Linked DNA regions of Homo sapiens: region 1 is linked to region 2. The links come from fine-mapping of genetic effects on gene expression. A gene starts in region 2. The other region holds a variant in brackets. All regions are shown on one strand. Distances are between the middles of the regions. Region 1 overlaps ZNF831 (zinc finger protein 831). Region 2 holds the start of EDN3 (endothelin 3).

What was found.
Region 1: its variant is fine-mapped to the expression of EDN3 in tibial nerve (GTEx, PIP above 0.99).

The regions. Positions count from the first base shown.
Region 1 is chr20:59,238,014-59,243,386 of GRCh38, forward strand. The region is part of intron 4 of ZNF831 (zinc finger protein 831); the gene reads left to right. Among named protein-coding and RNA genes, the nearest start is that of EDN3, 60 kb to the right of the region's middle. The variant G/C (reference allele first, on the strand shown) is at 2,184.
Region 2 is chr20:59,298,024-59,303,396 of GRCh38, forward strand. It overlaps EDN3 (endothelin 3), which reads left to right and starts at 2,588. Exons shown (of 5, transcript NM_207034.3): 1 at 2,588-2,841; 2 at 3,387-3,699. The coding sequence starts at 2,790.

The DNA of each region.
Region 1 (5,373 bases), 60 kb before region 2:
TTATGCTAAAAATGATTTGTTGTTCACCTGAAACTCATATGGAACCAGTCATCCATATTTTATCTGCCAACCCTTCCCTAAGGCAAAGCGGTAGAGACCTCGGACCCTCGTCCTTTCTGGCATATTCCTCTCTGGGGGACTTCATCTGCTTGAAAATTTCCCAAATCTGATTTTTTCTTCTTAATCCTGATCAGTTTGGGCATTCCTGTTCATCCCTGCTCAGTCGGCCTGGGGCCTTTCTCACAGCTGGGTTGATTTCTGGGCCTTCTGTTTTTCAAACACTAAACTGGTTACCTCTGAAGAGCTGGGAAGCTGGTTCCCATCCACCAAGTGTCCTGACCCCCCAGTTTCCTCTGGAATCAGTGCATCTCGATTTCTCTCTCTCTTCCTCTCTACTTCTCATGTGGTCTCTGCCCACCCCTCTGCCTGGGGTTGCTTGGCTTAGGTAAGGCCTGGCCTTTTCAAGACCTGGGGCACTTTAGCCAAACACCCTGACCAGAGGAGAGGAGCAGCCAGTCGCCTAGATTGTCCAACCTTGACTTTGCCACAAAGGAAAGGCCACATTTGCTTTCTTTGTTTTCAAAGCTAATACATGGAAGAAGAAGGCTTAACTTTCTTTTCTCTTTGAGATTCGTGAGGGAGACAGCATCAAAGCTGCACCCTTCTGGCTTAGAAAATACACCCAGAAGCTATAATGAGCACCAAGATGAGATCTTATATACAGGGTACATTTCTATGCTAAAACTATTTTAAATTTTATTATCCACCTCATGCTATTTCATCTCCTCTCGTCCTCTCCCCCTTGTATCTATTAGAGCCTGGGTATGGATTTCTTTCCCTGAGATAAGTTTCATAATCACGAAGCATACTTGACAGTCACACACAGCAGACGCAGGGCCGGAAGAGGTTCAGCAAGGAAAATGGTAGCTGTGTTTTCCTCTCTATGAGAGAAATATTGGAATATTGGAGGTAAAATGGATGAATACATTCCCCCAAATAGAAGTTTTGAAGGTTGCTTTTGCATAGAGAAGTTGAAGACTCCATGAAGTGATAGAAAGCATGTAGATATGACAATTATTTTTCTTTTGTTCCCCTCACCCAGCATCCTTTGGGGTACAGGCCCACTTCCCATTTTTCTTCCCCTTTCTCCACATTGACTTTTTTTTTCTTTAATAAATTTTTATGATGGCCTGAGTGAGAAAACCAAACCAAACCCATTCCCAGCGCTTCCAGCCCTCAGGTTTTGTTGGATGTTCATGCAATTTTCTCATTATTTTTCTGTCAGTGTTCATAGAAACAGTGTAAACTACTTGATTTCAAAACCATTATGTTAGTTTACTGCATTATCATTTAAGCTGTGTATTCTTTTGTGATTTGAATTTAGTCATAACATATTTTAAAAGATAAGCCAAGAAGATTTCTCGAATACATTTTTGATGACAACTGCTTACGGTTCAAGTTTCCCCCCTTCTTTCATCTTTTATGTGACTTTCATTTTACATCCTTGATTTAGTTATTCTTTCTTTCTGTAAACACTTTTTTTTTTTTTTTTTTGAGATAGAGTCTCGCTCTGTCGCCCAGGCTGGAGTATAGTGACCTTGGCTCACTGCAACCTCTTCCTCCTGGGTTCAAGCGATTCTCCTGCCTCAGCCTCCCGAGTAGCTGGGATTACAGGCGCGCGCCACCACGCCTGGCTAGTTTTTGTATTTTTCGTAGAGACAGCGTTTCACCATGTTGGCCAGGCTGGTCTTGAACTCCTGACCTCAGGCGATCCGCCCACCTTGGCCTCCCAGAGTGCTGGGATTACAGGCGTGAGCCACCGCACCCGGCCATCTGTAAGCATTTTAAGCAGACCTTGTGACTTCTATTGAGAGAAGATTCTGGGGCAGCACAGTCTTACTTCTCCAGTTTTGTCTCACTCAAGAAAATACCCAGGTAGACAGCCCTGTGCTATGGTGAACTGGTTCCTCCAGCCCCCACCCCTGCCTAAGACCACCCCCAGGGGAGGATTCAGGGAAGTGGAAGCGTGGAAGACTCTAAAGATTACCTTCTCTCCCCTTGGGGAAGGTTTGTGTATTTTTTATTCTGTTCTTCTCACCCCCACCCCCACCTACCCCCACAGTCCCCCAGCTGCTGTCTATCCTCTGTGCGGAATTGTGTGCCTGCCACAAGATTCCCCTCCT[G/C]CGGCATTCTCCACCCCTTCTGCAGTTGGAATTTTCTGGATGCTTGACATTGTTTACACTCTTCTTCGGACAAGGGTTAAAGGCTACCTCCCATTTTCTGTCAGATCATAGATGTCCTTTCCTCTATTGCTTTAGAATTGCCAAAGAGACTCCTTTTGTGAGTGGTAGAATAGAATCCTTCAGGAAAGATGTAAAGGCTTTTTCTACACCTCAAAAATGGACTTTCTAGGCAGTTCTAATAATACATCAATTGCTGCTCTTTTAAAAACATCTAGAAATGAGATTTACTGATTGATTTGGTTGGTTTGAAAATTATTTCTAGGGGCCGGGCGCGGTGGCTCACTCCTGTAATCCCAGCACTTTGGGAGGCTGAGGCGGGCGGATCACGAGGTCAGGAGATGGAGACCATCCTGGCTAACACGGTGAAACCCCGTCTCTACTAAAAATACAAAAAAATTAGCCGGGCGTGGTGGCGGGCGCCTGTAGTCCCAGCTACTCCGGAGGCTGAGGCAGGAGAATGGCGTGAACCCGGGAGGCGGAGCTTGCAGTGAGCCAAGATGGCGCCACTGCACTCCAGCCTGGGCGACAGAGCGAGCCTCCGTCTCAAAAAATAAATAAATAAATAAATAAATAAAAATATTTCTAGGGAAATACTCTTCCTTTTTATTCCCTCTCTTTCCTAAATGTTGCTTTTGTCGTCCTACCTGTATTTTCAGGTAAGCTTTTGGGTTTGTGTGTAACTGAGCTTGTAAATTTTTAATGCATTTTAACCAGACTGAAGAAATTTACAGGAAGATAGAGATGCTACTGTGCGTCTAGGAGATAGTTTCTGAGGTAAAAAAGAAAAAAAAGTCCTATAATTAAAGTTTTATATTGTAAAATAATTTCTACAGCTGGTGTGAGGACAAAGGAGAGACTTCTTAGAATTCTGTAAGAATTTGGCCCCTCTCTTCCTATTATTCCTCCATTCCTCTTTGCTACCCCACGTCTCAGCTTCCAAGTTACATGCGACCTTGAGGTTCAAGTCTCCATGATCTCTTCATAGCAGAGCAGAGCTAAGTCTTGATATTTTATTCCTTGCTTTGGTCTAAAAGAACTCATAACCGGCCCCCTCTATTTTTTTTTAATCAGAACCCACAGAAACCATTGAGAGGCTTTTGCTGAAAAAAAAAAATGCCACTTGAGCTGCATTGCTAAGGGTTGCAGTTCCCGAAGTACTCTCTCTTTTGAGGTGGAAATCTTGAGAAAAGAAGCCAAGTTGAAAGTATTTCGGTGACCCCACAGTCCACCCGGTTGAGCTGCTTTTATTACAAACTTTTATACGTTTATAAGAAACATATATAAGAAAACTTTTGTAAGAAACGTTTATAAGAAAATGACACTTGTAAAATAAGCCAGAAAGCGTAGATTCTTGAGTAAATTTCTGTATGTGAAAGTTTTTAAAGAGTATTTTGGGCAATGTTTATTTCTTTCCTCTTTATCTCAGTCCTCTTGTCTTAAACAGTATTGAAGAAATGCTGTTGAATTTGGTACCTGAATAGGATTTTATATTACTGAAATATTCAAATTGACTGTTCCTTTAGTATTGTTTAGAAGAAATATCTGGGTGAAAGGAAGTTTTCTGCTTTCCAAATGCTTCACTTTCCTCTACGCCACAAAAAATAAGAGAACTGAAAGAGAAGAAAGAAAAGTACAATCGCCTAAGTACTCCACGAGATGGAATATCTAAACACGTTATGAAAACAGAACAATATTCCCCCATCGTCTTTTGCTGGTTTTCTTGTCGAATTAAGTTTTACTCGTCTGAAGTCTTGGTTTGAGCGAAGCCCTAAATGCTCCTTCAATATTTGTTGCTTCACAAAGGCTGGACTTAGAATGTTTTCTTTCCTAAGGTGATTAGAAAACCAAAATTGATGACGCCAACTCTAATATTTTCTTTCTTGTTTCTGTTTCTAGTTTGACAAGAGCCCATTTTTCCCCCCTCAGGATTAATGAAGGAGAGAAGGGGAGATCTTTCTTCCCAGCTATTATTATTGAAATGGATCAATTTCTCCTTTTTAAGGATGCAAATCTTGAGGAAAAATGAGCTCTCTCCAATACCTTAATTATATTTCAAGAAATGGGCTGTTGTTTATGAACTCATCCAGTATTGAGAAACATTGAAAATAATCATTCAAACAGTAGATACTCTTGATTTCAATTTTGGCATCATATATTTCAGAAGGTATTTTCACTAATTATATTTTTTCTCCTCATATATCCTTTTGCTGTCTAAATTTTAGATACACACTTGTGGTCTAGGCACAAATATTAACGATTGATTTTAAATATGACTTTCCGCTAAATATTGTTTGGAAAAAGAAAAACAAATCTCTAAATGGGAAATCTTAAATTGATTACCTTTTATCAAAGAAATAAGAGAAATGAGTACCACTAAGAAAAGTAATTTCTGAAATAAAATGTATGATTACTTTAGAAGAGACAAACTTTCAAAAAATTGCACTAGGAAAGAGAAGTACCCTGGTATGGGTTGCTAGATTTTGATAAATGTATTTTTCTGCTCTTTCGATGAGTCCTTCAGCCACATCTCTCTGAGGAACCAGGGCTGAGGCTTCATCACCAAGTCAACCCTCCTTAGATGGTTTTGTGAGGTGGCATTTTAGCGATTCCTCAGGCTGGTCACCTCAGACTCTCAAAGCAGATGAAGCGCCCTGGTGGTGTGGAGATGGGATGATTCATAACCCATCTCCTCTGTGGCATTTACCACAATACCAATCATTGTGTAATTCTGTCCTATTTTGTTTTATCTTCAGCTACGTGTATACTACAACAAGTACATAGAATAGAGCTTCTTAATTATTAGCAATAAACCTGTATTTAACTCCAGGGCAAGGCAGGGCAGGGGATGAGGGAGACCTCTATTCTTTCCCGTTGTCTTATTTACTTTCCCTCTTAATGGAATCTTTTCTTTTGAATTCAGCACATACCTAAGGTTTTAAGTGATTGAAATATTTTAACTGGATTTTTTTCCCCCACTAACATAGTTTAGGAAAATTCCTCTGAGGCTGAAGTTATCAACGCAGCTGCCTTTCATTGAAAAAATAGAAAAGCAAAGAAAACTGCTCAGACAGGTACTTTTAGAGGTAAAAGGTTTACCTAATCACGTTGAAGAGGTCGAATAGCTAAGTAT
Region 2 (5,373 bases):
AAGGGAGCTCTTTCGCTTGAGAGCTGGTGTTGGCGAGTGTCACTGCAGGCTGCTGCCTCAAATCATGGCGCCCGGCTTGCTTTAGGGACCAAGGACAATGCTGCCTCCTCTGATCATCCAGCTGAACACACTGTCTTCTTCTCTTAGCTCTGTGCGGCGTTTTATGTTCTCAGCATCCTGGATCCTTGGCGATCTATTTCTGAACTTCCTTACCTCAACTAGAGTAGAAGACCCAGAGGGCAGGGCCAGCTCCATCCTGGTATTTGGCTAGCACCTCCTGGTGCCTGAGAGGCTCATCCAGGGTTTGTTGATTTTTAGTCCCAGTGAAGACAAGTGGTGGTCGGCTTCAAGCTACTGAAGGCCATAGACCCAGAGAGTGGTCTAAGCAGCCATGATACCTCCTGTGTCTGAACATGGTACCCGGAAACCTCCTCCTACTCCTTTTCTCCTTTTAGCTGATTAGTATATTTTCTATTCCTCCAGCCATCCCCCAATCCAAGAACTTTTTATTTTGTTGAAGATGGAAATTTTAATTCCAAAGAGATAGTAATTATTATGGTCTGAATATTTGTCCTCTCCAGATTTATCTGTTGAAATCCTATCCATGAAGGTGATGATGTCAGGAGGTGGGGCCCTTGAGGGGTGATTAAGTCATGAGGGTTGCAGCCCTCATGAATGGGGTTGGTGTCCTTAGAAAAGAGACCCCCAGAGAGCTGCCTTGACCCTTCCACAACTGAGGATGCAGTGAGAAGTCACCATCCATGATCAGAAATCGAGCCCTTATTAAACACCGAATCTACCAGCACCTTGATCTTGGTTTTCCAGACCCCAAAAATGTGAAAAATAAAACTCTGCGGTTTATCAGCCACCCAGCTTATGGCGTTTTGTTATAGTAGCCCCAACAAACAAAGATAATACTAAAATGATCCAAATTCTAGCCCAGCAGGAACAGAAGATATTGTGAGTCTTGGGTTTTTCTTATTTTCAAAGCATCAAGTGCAAAAACAAACAAATAAACACTTGGATTCAAGGGCTAGGCAGGATGGGATGGGAGTGGGGGGATGGAGAACTTCAGCATCAGCTTCAGTGCTGGAAGCTTGAGTGCTACTCTAGTTACTGCAGCTCTGTACCAATTTACCCAGAGTTTAGTGCTGTAAAACAACCATTTATTATGCTCATGGATTGTGTGGGTGGGAAGTTCGGACAGGGTACAGCGGGACAGCTATTCCTCAGTTGGAAGTCTTGAGGGCTGGGAGCTCAAATCATCGGAAGGCACATTCACTCAGGTCAGTGGCTGACACTGGTGGTCGGCTGGGAGGCCTCGGTTTCTCTCCACGTAGGTTTCTCCAGGTGATCTCTCCAGGTGGGCTTGTTAGGGCTTCCTCCTGGTACAGCAGCTGTGTTCAGAGGACAGGTGTCCTGAGCTATCAAGCCAGGGGGATGTTGTAGCACTCTTTTGGACTGTCCTCAGAAACTGCTCTGGTCACTTCAGCTGCTTTCTAGTTTTCAGAAGCTGGTCGTTAAGGCTAGTAGAGGGCAGGACCCAATTCAACCCCATTTTTTAGAGATGAGGTCTCGCTATGTTGCCCAGGCTGGTCTTGAACTCCCAGGCTCAAGCAATCCATCCACCTTGGCCTCTCAAAGAGCTGGAATTACAGATGTGAAGCACTGCCCCTCCCCCAACCCCATCTGTTATGAAAGGAGGGTCCTTTGACCACAAGTGCCCTGAGAAGTCAGGAGGACTTCCCAGTCTCAGACATTTTTATCTGAGCTGGAGATGGGGACAGCCTCCCACACACAGGACTTGGAAGGCTATGAAGGAAGTAGGGGGCTCTCTTGGGAGGTCATTTCCCTTGGTAGGGACGGTTGTGTGAATGAACTTGGCCTTTAGGGAGAGGAGCCCGACTCTCACCTGAAGCCACCCAACCTGTGCAGATGGCTGAGGAAGCCCTGGACACCACAGGACCGCTAACCCAGGATCTTTGTTGACTTTGCTCCCAGGCCACTGCCCCACACGCAGGCTCTGAACTCCTGGGAGAGGTAGGGAGCCAGCCCGAGGCGTGAGTCAAGAGTGTAAAGTACACCGAGTTCCTTGGCAAGCAGGCTCTTCAAGGGGAAGGTGTCACTCGGGGAACAATGAGAAATGTGTCTTTCCCTCAGCCCCTGATAGAAAAGATAACACCCCTTGAGCACAGCCTTTTCTCATCTGTTCTTGCTCTTGGATGGGGGGCTGCTACTCCGGAGCGGCGAACTGGCGGGCGGGGGTGCGCCTGTGAGTGTGAGCGCGCGTGTGCGTGTGTGCGCGCGCTCTCGTGGCCTTCCGGCAGCTGGCAGCTGTCCCGGCCCCCACCCCACCCTACCCCACCCCACCCAGCCGCGCCACGCCACGCCGCCCCCGCCCCTCGCTGTCCTGGGTGCGCCTCGGGCCGCTGCGCTCCTGGCCAGCTCCCCCCAGCGCCTGGGAGGCGACCCCCAGTGCGCCCGGGTTCAAAGGCCCGGCGAGGCAGTTCCAGCCCCTCTGGGGGGCGGGGAGGCGACGGGGGTGGTGCAGAAGCCAGAAAAGCCCGAGCCACAGCCGGCCAGCTCCGCGCAGGGATGGGCAGCGCGCTCTGAAAGTTTATGACCGCCGCAGCCAACTCCTGGCCGGAGCTGGAGACGCAGCGAGCGATCGGCCGGCCTCGAACCCCCACAGCTGGAGGGCGAGGCCAGCTGTACCCGGCCCCAGTGCCCTTTCGCGGCCACAAGCGGCCGTCCTCCTGGTCCGGTGCTCCGGCGCCTGATCTAGGTTCATGGAGCCGGGGCTGTGGCTCCTTTTCGGGCTCACAGTGACCTCCGCCGCAGGTAAGCGCACGGGGCGGCGCGCCTCTCCTGGCGCGAGCGCACACAAAAGGACCCAGGGCGGGGGACCCGAGGCGCGGAGAAGATGTGCGTCGCGGGGAGCAAACTCTTGCCTGGGCTCTGCACTCGTGAAGACGCCTGGGGGAGGGCTGGGGAGCAGAAGCGGCGCGCAACGACTACCCGCACGGGCTCCGGGAGTTGCAGCCCGCGCACTGGCTGGAGACCTGCTGCCTGGGCCGACTTGGTCAATTTTTCATGAAACTGGGGACTTTTCAGAAAGTTTGCGAACTATTCAGAGGCTGTGCCAAACCCTGGCAAAGTTTGCAGAAAGTATGCAAAATGCATGCAAGTTTTCAACGGGTGCAGATAGCTTGCAAGCTTTTCACAGAGTGTGCAGATAGCTTGGAAACTTTTCAGAAACTGCGCAGAGCTTTGGAAACTTTGCAGACATTTTGCTTGCTCCACCCCCCTCCTCAGGTGTTTGGGGGTGGCGGGTGTTGAGGGGTCTGCACACTCAGCTTAGGAGCCCCTCAATCTGCCTTCTGCAGGATTCGTGCCTTGCTCCCAGTCTGGGGATGCTGGCAGGCGCGGCGTGTCCCAGGCCCCCACTGCAGCCAGATCTGAGGGGGACTGTGAAGAGACTGTGGCTGGCCCTGGCGAGGAGACTGTGGCTGGCCCTGGCGAGGGGACTGTGGCCCCGACAGCACTGCAGGGTCCAAGCCCTGGAAGCCCTGGGCAGGAGCAGGCGGCCGAGGGGGCCCCTGAGCACCACCGATCCAGGCGCTGCACGTGCTTCACCTACAAGGACAAGGAGTGTGTCTACTATTGCCACCTGGACATCATTTGGATCAACACTCCCGAGTAAGTCAGCCTTTTGTGGTGAGGAACGTGGCTCCCGGACCAGGCCCACATCTGCTCATTCCCAGGAGGACCTCACTCCACCCCAGCCCCGCTCAGTTAGCCCAGAGCCTGCCCTGGCACAGCCTTTAGCTCTTGCTGGGGCCTCTTGCCAGCCCAGGTCTCTTCTGCAGGTCAGGGGTGTGACCCACATCCCCCCTGAGGGCCTGGCCCAAGAGAAACTCAATCCTGAGTTTGATCCTGTGGAAGGAGGAGCCCTCCCTCTGAATGAAGTGAACTGACCAGGGGGATTAGATACCTGAGATGTCTCTCTGAGCCTCTTTTCTGAGATAGAGAAAGCCCCGAAAGTTTATCTCATTCCCCAGGGGCCAAGGGGGCTCATACTCACTGTTGACCCCACCAGGATCCAAGGGGTTTAAAATTCCTTGAAAGCATCCTGGTCTCCAGGGAGTCTAAGGGTGGGTTTAGCTGAGCCTGACAGAACCTGCACAGTCCACTCGGGGTAGAATTCCCCTGGGATGGGCTCCCTTCCTTCCTGTGGGCCCCCCTGGATGCCAAGGCAGGGTGAATTCACATCAGCTCGTCCTTGGGCCTTCCACAGGCTGGCTCCAGTCACCCACTGCCATGGTCACAGAGGGCCTTCCCTTCTCTCCTGCAGTCCTTAGAAACTCTCTTACCCTAGGGCCTAGACAGCACCATCCTGAATTTGTCTTGGGGTTCGTCCAGTGGGGAAGTCAGCCTTCTCCTGGGGCCATGTGGAGAGAGTGTGGCTCTGACAGGGGGAGGCTTTGATGACTCCCAGTGTTCAGGGAACCCCTCCTGCAGGCACATCATCTTGCAGGCCATACAGAGGGCTTGACCTTGCCTGGGTCACCAACTCTCTGGCATTGGCTTCCCCATCTCTAAGATCTGGGACTTGGATCAGACACCTCTAAGTTCTGTTCCCTGGGTGTTCATGGGATCTCTTGGGACTCTTGCTTGTACCCTATTAGGGATTCTTAGCTGAGAACTCAGAGATGGTTGTGAATGCAAGCCCCTGGAAGCCTGGAAAGGCACCTTTGCCACCGTGTCCCGGAGCCGTCTTGATTCAGGTTCCTCACGGTCACCTTTATCCCCAAGCCCCATAACCTCTGAGCCCTTGGTAGCAGCTTTCATGGGGCTCACTTACCTACCTTGTGTCATCGGCACCTCAAAAATGAAGTGCAGACGAGGGTAGTAAACCTGAGGGGTGGAATGTCTTTCAGACCAGGGGACAAGACCTCTAATCACATCCATGATAGATCTGGAACATCACCCCACCATGCTTGAAGGGCAGGCAGGGGCTTCACATTGAGCCAGCAGGACACGTGCACAAAGTCCTGCACTCAGAAAGACTCTGGCTCGGCTTAAAGTCCTGCTGTCACTGTCTTGAAATCCTTAATACTTTCTGAACAAAGAGCTGCACATTTGCATTTTCTCCTGGGTCCCATAAATTCTGTAGCTGGTCGTGATACCCTGATTTGCTGGCTGGGCTGTGTCCACCTAGAGGATGGGAGGTGCCTCCCTGTTTCTTTCCCTTTGTGGGGAAGATAGAAGCTGTGAGTGTTGGGCCATCATCAATTGCCTCTTATCCTCAGATAGCGAGGGGAGTCACCTTTCCTTGTAGCCCCTGCACCTTGGCACTGCCCTTTCTGATTC